2 separate regions of the Homo sapiens genome follow, and region 2 is linked to region 1. Evidence: fine-mapped expression QTL. Tissue or cell type: iPS cells. Region 1 holds a variant in brackets; the other region holds the start of a gene. All regions are shown on one strand. Distances are between the middles of the regions. Region 1 overlaps LINC02558 (long intergenic non-protein coding RNA 2558). Region 2 holds the start of C22orf42 (chromosome 22 open reading frame 42).

Evidence for each region. PIP is the estimated chance that this variant, and not a neighbour inherited with it, causes the effect.
Region 2: C22orf42 starts here. The variant in region 1 is the best candidate, but not a certain one, in a credible set for the expression of C22orf42 in iPS cells (HipSci, PIP 0.79).

What each region holds. Positions count from the first base shown.
Region 1 is chr22:32,007,506-32,011,774 of GRCh38, forward strand. All of the region lies in intron 4 of LINC02558 (long intergenic non-protein coding RNA 2558), which reads left to right. Among named protein-coding and RNA genes, the nearest start is that of SLC5A1, 34 kb to the right of the region's middle. The variant A/G (reference allele first, on the strand shown) is at 2,086.
Region 2 is chr22:32,157,043-32,161,311 of GRCh38, forward strand. C22orf42 (chromosome 22 open reading frame 42) reads right to left here and starts at 2,261. Exons shown (of 9, transcript NM_001010859.3): 1 at 1,942-2,261. The coding sequence starts at 2,173.

The DNA of each region.
Region 1 (4,269 bases):
GCTGGGATTACAGGTGCACACCACTAGTAGAGACAGGGTTTCACCATGTTGGCCAGGCTGTCTCAAACTCCTGTCCTCAATGATCTGCCCGCCTTGGCCTCCCAAAGTGCTGGGATTACAGGCATGAGCCACCGCACCCAGCTAGAATAACATTTTAAATGGATGAAAAAAAGGAACCACTAACTCAGATTTTTTTAAATAAAGATGGGGTCTCACTATGTTGCCCAGGCTGGTCTCAAACTCCTGGTCTCAAGCGATCCTCCTGCCTCAGCTTTCCAAAGTGCTGACATTACAGGCATAAGCCACCAGGCCCAGACAACCCACAATTTTATATCCAGTAAAAATATTATTCAGGAAGAAGGTGAAATAAATATATGCTCAAGCTACGGAAAAGTTACAGAAATTTGCCAACAGACAGATGCTTGGCTCACTGCAACCTCCTGGGTTCAAGTGGGTTCCGCCTCCTGGGTTCAAGTGATTCTCATGTCTCAGACTCTGAGTAGCTGGGATTACAGACGTGTGCCACCACACTCGGATAATTTTTTGTATTTTTAGTAGAAATGGGGTTTCGCCATATTGCTGGGATTACAGGCGTGACACCTGGACAACAGAGCAAGACTTCGTCTCAAAAAAATTGGTATATATGACTTTTGTATATATATAAAATATATATGTATATGTAAAATTATAAATTGTCTAGGGAGTTGCAATGTGTATATATTTAATGCAGATTACACCTATAACATAAAGGAAAGAGAGTAGATGAATCTATATGGAGGTAAGTTTTCTATCCTTTACTAAAATAAAACAGACTGTGAAAAGTATGGTATGTATATTATAATATCTAGAAAATTCAACATTAGCCAGGCGCGGTGGCTCACGCCTGTAATCCCAGCACATTGGGAGGCTGAGGCGGGGGGATCACCTGAGGTCAGGAGTTCGAGACCAGCCTGACCAACATGGAGAAACCCCCGTCTCTACTAAAAATACAAAATTTGCCAGGCGTGGTGGTACATGCCTGTAATCCCAGCTACTTGGGAGGCCGAGGCAGGAGAATCGCTTGAACCTGGGAGGCGGAGGTTGCGGTGAGCTGAGATCATGCCATTGCACTCCAGCCCGGGCAACAAGAGCGAAACTGTGTCTCAAAAAAAAAAAAAAAAAAAAAAAAATTCAACATAAAAAAGATGTCAATTCTCCCAAATTCAACATTACCTATAGATTTAATGCACTTCCTCCAACATTTTATATAGACAAAAATAACCTCATTCAAAAATTTATAGACACAGACCCTAGAATAGCTAAAACCAAACCAAACAAAAAACCAGTCTTAAAAGAGAACAAAGTGGGAAGAAACACTCTACCTGATATGAAGGCCTAACTATATAGCTAAGTAATCAAGGGAGTGTGGTACTGGCAGAGGTATAGTATAGAGATTAATGGAACATAACAGACAACCTGAAAATAGGCCCACATAAATATGCCCAATTGATTTTTGACAATGGTGCAAAAGGAGGAAAGATAGCCTTTTACACCTCTTCAACAGATGGTGCTGGAGGAAATAATAAGCTATTACAACAAGGTTACAGAATACAAGGTTAATATACAAAAGTCAATCACTTTCTTATATACCAGAAAACAAGTAAAATTTAAAATTAAACACATAATACCAATTTATATTAGCACCCCAAAATGAAATACTTAGGTATAAATCTAACAAATTATGTACCAAGAACTGTATGAGGAAAAGGACAAAACTCTGAAGAAAGAAGAACTAAATAAATAGAAAGACCCAATATTGTCAAGTTGTCCAATTCTTCTAAGCTTGATCTATAGATTCAATGCAATCTCAATCAAAACCCCAGCAAGTTATTTTGGGCTATCAAGAAACTGATTTTAAATTTTATATGCAGACAAAAAACCTATAATAGCCAACATAATATTGAAGATGAAGAGGACTGACACTATAAAGCCATAGTAAACAAAACAGTATAGTGTCATGTGCTTGCACTTATATGCATTTTTAAAGCACCAAAAACTGGGTGAACACAGTGGCTCATGCCTGTAATCCCAGCATTTTGGGAGGCC[A/G]AGGCAGGCAGATCACTTGAGGCCAGGAGTTCAAGACCAGCCTGGCCACTGTGGTGAAACTCTGTCTCTACTAAAAATACAAAAACTAGCTGGGCATGGCGTGCACCTGTAGTCCCAGCTACTAGGGAGGCTGAGGCATGAGAATTGCTTGAACCCGGGAGGCGGAGGTTGGAGTGAGCCAAGATAGTGCCACTGCACTCCAACCTGGGCAACAGAGTGAGACTCTATCTCCATAAATACATAAATAAAGCACCAAAAACTTTATCAATGTGTGTATGTGTTTTATGGATAGACAAAGACAGAAATAGAAGGTTCATGGGTGCAAACATATGTGGAAATGAAGTATAAAATGACCATAGGGATGATAACTGGTAACTTCAAGATGATAGTTACCTCCAGAGAGGGAGAAAGAAAGGTTCAAAAGCAGAATGTTAATTAAAGCTATACAGTGGAATTAATTGTTAAAAAGGGCAGAGATCTAAACTAAAACGCGCACACAAATAAGTACAATACAAGGAGTGTGATAATGTCAGAACAGATGAAAACAGAGACAAAGAGAGAGAATAATGGACCTGGGAAGTTCCAGGAAAATTTCTTGGAGGGGGCAGCTTGGAACTGAGCCTTGAAGGGTGGGTAGGATTTCTGAAGGCTGAAATTGAATGAGGGAGAGATGAGCAACGGCATAGAGATGTGAAGAGAGGCAATTGGAGAACACCAGGTCATACCAGCTAAGGTGAAGGTGGGAAGAAAAGGGGGTGAAGAGGTCCTCCCATGGGTCAGAGGAGTGTTACACTCTTTTTTGCTGGAAGGCTTCCCAGAAGGTATTATGAGCAACCTGAAGGCCAAGACTCAACTTTTCATGACCCCACTGCACATATAACAGTACTTTACATATACATATACCAAACATCATAAAAGGATTGAATGAAAGCAATGTCATCTAAGGGGAAAGAGGAGTTTAGGATTCCTAGAGTCTTGTAATAGAGTCTGATTGCAATAACCAGATTATTGCCTCTATTGTGCCTCTTTTAAAAAGAACTTAAAAGAGGGAACCTAGGGTGTAGCAGAAAAGTTGTGGAAAGTCCATACCTATAAAGTTAGGGTTAGGATTTTGAGCCCCGCCCTTTCTAGTGTAACACACTGCCATGATCTTAGAAGCACTGCAAGGAAACAAAATTACTTGTAACTGTTTGAAATCTCACAGAACTTGAAATAGGATAGTCAATTACATCATCTATTAAAATTGTGGGCCGGGCCCAAGGCTCCCAGCACCTTGGGAGGCTGAAGCGGGAGGATTGTTTGAACCCAGGAGTTCAAGGCCAGCCTGAGCAACATAGTGAGAACTCATCTCTACAAAAAATTTAAAAAAATGAGCCAGGTGTGGTGACATACACCTGTAGTCCTAGCTACTCGGGAGGCTGAGGTGGGAGGATCACTTGAGCTAGGGAAGTTGAGGCTGCAGTGAGCTGAAACCATGCCACTGCACAGCCTGGTTAGCGGAGTGAGACCCTGTCTCCAATCAACCAACCAACCAACCAACAAACAAAAACTAAAAAGAAAAAGAAGGCTGGGTGTGGTGGTTCATACCTGTAATCCCAGCACTTTGGGAGGCTGAAGCGGGTGGATCACCTGAGGTCGGGAGTTCGAGACCATCCTGACCAACATGGAGAAACCCCATCTCTACTAAAAAAAAAAAAAAATACAAAATTAGCCGGGCATGGTGGCATATGCCTGTAATCCCAGCTACTCGGGAGACTGAGGCAGGAGAATCACTTGAACCTGGCAGGTGGAGGTTGCAGTGAGTCGAGATTGTGCTATTGCACTCCAGCCTGGGCAACAAGAGTGAAACTCCATCTCAAAAAAAAAAAAAAAAGGAACTGCTTTTGTCATATCCTATAAATTTTGGTATGCTGTGTTTCCATTTGCATTTGCCTCAAAGTTTCCCCCTTTTTTTGAGCCATTGGTTGTTCAGAAACATATTATTTAATTTCCATGTGTTTGTGAATTTTCTGAAATTCTGTTATTGATTTCTAGTTTCATACCTCTCTGGCCAGAAAAGATACATATTTGATATGATTTCAATCTTCTTAAATTTGTTAAAACTTTTCTTATGACCTAGCATGTGCTCTATCCTGAAGAATGTTCTTTGTGCACTTCAGAAGAATGCGTATTCTATTGCGGTTG
Region 2 (4,269 bases), 150 kb after region 1:
GTTGTCATTTGCCTTTCTCTTATGTGTGAAGATGTGTTTAAGGATCGTTTGCATTTCTTTTTCTGTGACTTCTCTATTTATCACTTTATTACCTACTTTTAGGATCACTTGACTCTAGAGATTCTCAAGTCAGCCTATTTCAGGTCATGATCGTCTGTCTGTTCACTGTTGACTCTCACCTGCACTTCGCCACCAGCCTCCTAGCTGGTCTCCCTGCTTCCACCCTTGCCTGCATTACAGGACATTCTCACACAGCCGCTGGTCAGTCTTCTTCTTGGAGGATTAACAGTAATCCCCAGGCTGTAATCCTCCAGTGGTTTCCCATCTCAACTAAAGTCCATATTCTTTGTCAATGCTCACTACGTGTACAAGGCCTTAGCCCATCATATTCATTTCACTCTGCTGCAGCCACCTTTGTGTCTTTCTGTCCTTTTCCCAAAACAAGTTTGTTCCCATTTCAGGAATTCCAAAGAAGAAATTCCTCTCTGGAAGCCCTCTCCCATCATCCTCACAAGGCTCCGCCTCACTTTTCAATTTATTTTAAAAAACAAATAAGATGGGATCTCTATGTCTATGAAGGTGGGGACCTTCCGTCTTATTTCAAAAAGAAAGGGACATAACAAGAACCAAGAGGCAAAAAACAGTCGTGAGAGTGTAGTCAGAGCTCCTCCTTCCACTACCAGCTACTGAAGGCTGCTGGCCCTGCCCAATGGCTAGTACCCACAAAGCCTCCTATGTCACCTGGTTACCAGGAAACAACCAAGTCAGGCTAGTGGCTCACAATGGCCGACCCCACAGACCCACCCAATGGCTCACACCTCCCTGCTGCTGCCCACCTTGTGGCCACCCTGTCCCTCTGTGGTGACTGCACTATTCGTCCTGGGCTGCCTGAGCTTTCCAGTCCTGAGAAAAGTGCAGGGGGGCGGGGGTTGTTATTGGAAGTCACCCTGGGCAATGAAATCAATAGAAAACCCTGGTTACTAAAGTCAGTTCCATTAGCATCTCTGTTTTTCTGAGTCTGGCAGCTTTCGTTTGCTCACCAAATGTAGTTATACACAAATTTCGGACTGCTTTGTAAGTAAATGCTTCTCTCCTGTCTTACAAGTGTTAGTTTTTGTCTTCAACTTGACCACAGCAACTCCTAGAGCCCTGGTCCCACTCTCGATAAAGCGTGATGACTGCGACTTGAATGAAACCCTAGGACACATCACACTTTCCCTTCCTTGTCTACAATATAGGGACTACACTGTAGTAGGGCTGAAGAGACACTCATGTCAAATTGGGAATTTTAAAGTAATCAGAGCTCCATGACTAAACTCTTTGGGTAAAACCAACACAAAAGCAATTTCTTTACAGCTCTGGCACTAACATTTCATACCTTTTGCAGTCATTTGAAGCATGTCCCCCAATTTTTTTTCCTTCTTTCTTCAAATTACAATTGGAAGAAGTAAAGCAGCTTCTGTCAATGTGACTTAAAACCATCTATTAAGAATACCATATAATCTCTTCCATGGCAAACTCTATTTTGAATTTAAGAAGTCTCCACATATTTGAGTCTAAATTATCCCAATTATTAGCTACCTTAAGGAATGGGAGAAAAGAAACAATTGGGCCCTTAACTGGCTCCTTCACTTAGGTACCAGACCAGCTGGATGGGTAAGGATAGAGAATGGGATGGGGACTCCAAAACTGGAGTATTTGAAATTTTACTGAGAAAAGGGCCGGGACTAGACCAAAAAGTCCTCAACAAAGAAGGCTCAACAACAAAGACAAGAGGCAGAACCAGCCTTTGTCCCCCATGCCTAGCCCTGGGAAAGCCGGCTATGGGCAGGAGGGAGCTGGAAGCTGAGGATGTCTCTGAGGGTGAGGGACTGCAAAGGGGTGGGGGCGGTGGTGGCCAGAGAGATGCCAGAGAGCAAATGGCACCCATGGCTTCTTTACCTTTGGACATCTTCAGCATCTTCGGCGTCTTCGGGAGGCTGAGGTACTGCATGAGTTGGGCCTTCTTAGCTTTCAAATCCAATTTGGCAGGCTTTGCAGTGGTGGATGCTGGTGCTGTGGCTGCCACAGTCTCAGGAATCTCACACTCATGGCAGGGTCCCACATCTGGCCTGCAGCAGTCACAGTTGAGGCCCCCGCTGGGGCCCAGGCAGCAAGTCAGTTTGCTCCCCATTGGGCACCTAAACACACAAAAAAGTCCAAGAGGCACAAGGACAGAATGTAGTCGGAGCTCCTCCTCCTTCTACGGCCAGCTACCGACTGAAGGCTGCTGGCCCTGGCCGTTGCCTAGTAACCACAAAACCTCCTATGTCACCTGGTTGCCAGGAAACAACCAAGTCAGGCTAGTGGCTCACAATGGCCGACCCCACAGACCCACCAAATGCCTCACAATGCCCATCCCTGCTGCTGCCCACCTTGTGGCCACCCTGTCCCTCTGTGGTGACTGCATTATTCATCCTGGGCTGCCTGAGCTTTCCAGTCCTGAGAAAAGTGCAGGGGTTGGAGGTTGTTATTGGAAGTCACCCTGGGCAATGAACTCAATAGAAAACCCTGGTTACTAAAGTCAGTTCCATTAGCATCTCTGTTTTTCTGAGTCTGGCAGCTTTCGTTTGCTCACCAAATGTAGTTATACACAAATTTCGGACTGCTTTGTAAGTAAATGCTTCTCTCCTGTCTTACAAGTGTTACTTTTTGTCTTCAACTTGACCACAGCAACTCCTAGAGCCCTGGTCCCACTCTCGATAAAGCGTGATGACTGCGACTTGAATGAAACCCTAGGACACATCACACTTTCCCTTCATTGTCTATAAAATAGGGACTGAACTCATCCTTCCCAGTTCTGAAATGCTAGGACCTACCAACTCTCTTTTCTCCCTCTGTTTCTTTCTTCCATGGCAGGGATATTCAGATATTTCTTTTACTAACAATGCATAAAGCACGTTTTTCTTACACAAAATTGAAAACCATATAGTGGGATACCACTGTCCTCATTTGATGAAGATGAACAGTAAATATCTGGCAAGCCTGACAGTATTCCAACAGTGGTATACTAATTTAACCCCCAGAAACCATTCCATTTTACGGATTTTGCAGAATCAATCTAGATGGAGAAGTTAAGTAGCTTCCCCAAGTTTCCATGACGGCTCAAGATGGGGCCAGAATTTAATCCTGAGTAATCTTGATCCCCACAAGCCGATCATGATTATCAGAAAGTAAAGGTAGACGTCATGCTTGGAGGGGAAGTGACCTTGTAGATTAGTATTTTTTTTAAAGAATAACAGTTTTTTGATGTGAATTTTAAAATGCCTCCCCTTCATTCAACATTAAGTCTAAGTGCCAATACTGCATGTGTGAAACAGTCCCAACCCTCAGTGAGTTCAGGCAGATGAGCAAACAAAGGCTTAGAGGGTTCAATTATCTGAGGCTACACTGCTGGACAGTGAATCAACCTGGAATGAAAATGCAGATCTATCTGACCCAAAATTAGATGCTGGGGTAGAGTTTGAATTTTATTCTGGAAACGAGAGTCACTGAACCACACAGGGGTGAGGAGTCTCTATCCGATGTGCTTGCAGTGACGTCACTCTGCGCAGTGGAGAGGGCTTTATGAAAGCAGTGGGGCTGATTAAGATACTCTATGTTCATCTGGAGAACAGTAAGGCTAAAAAGGCAGCAGCAGTGACTGAAGTGGAAGGAAAAGTTTTGTGATCATTTGGGAGATAGAACAGGAAGTGCTTGGTGATTAGACGTGGAAGAAGAGGGGAAGGAAAAACAGGCTGCTAAGGCCCTAGTTTGATGGACTGTGTAAATAGCAGTGATTCTCCCCTAGACAGAGAATGTAGGACGAGAAAGAGGTGTGGGGAATGAGACAGTTTTGAACTCTTTAAATGTCACATTGAAATGGAACCGTCTGGTTGAAAATTGGATGTAAACCTCTGTAGGCTAAGTCCATTCTGTGACATCCCAACTCATGTTTTCAAAAGTAACACACACACAGTAACTCAAACCATTAAGGAAATTTCCTAACATTTACATACTAAGAATATAATAGTTTTTTAGTGATTACTTTCTTAGGGAAACTTTGAATTTATGGTTGTAGCGAATGAGGTGTCACGTAAAATAAAACTGTTATATAAGAACAACATTTAAATTCTATTGTCATAACAGCATATAGAAAACAATTGAAGCCATGGGTAAGACCGTGACTGCTTTAAAAAGCTGTGTCTAATAAGGGGAGGGGTTGGAGAGAAAGGAGGCTTGGGGAATAGG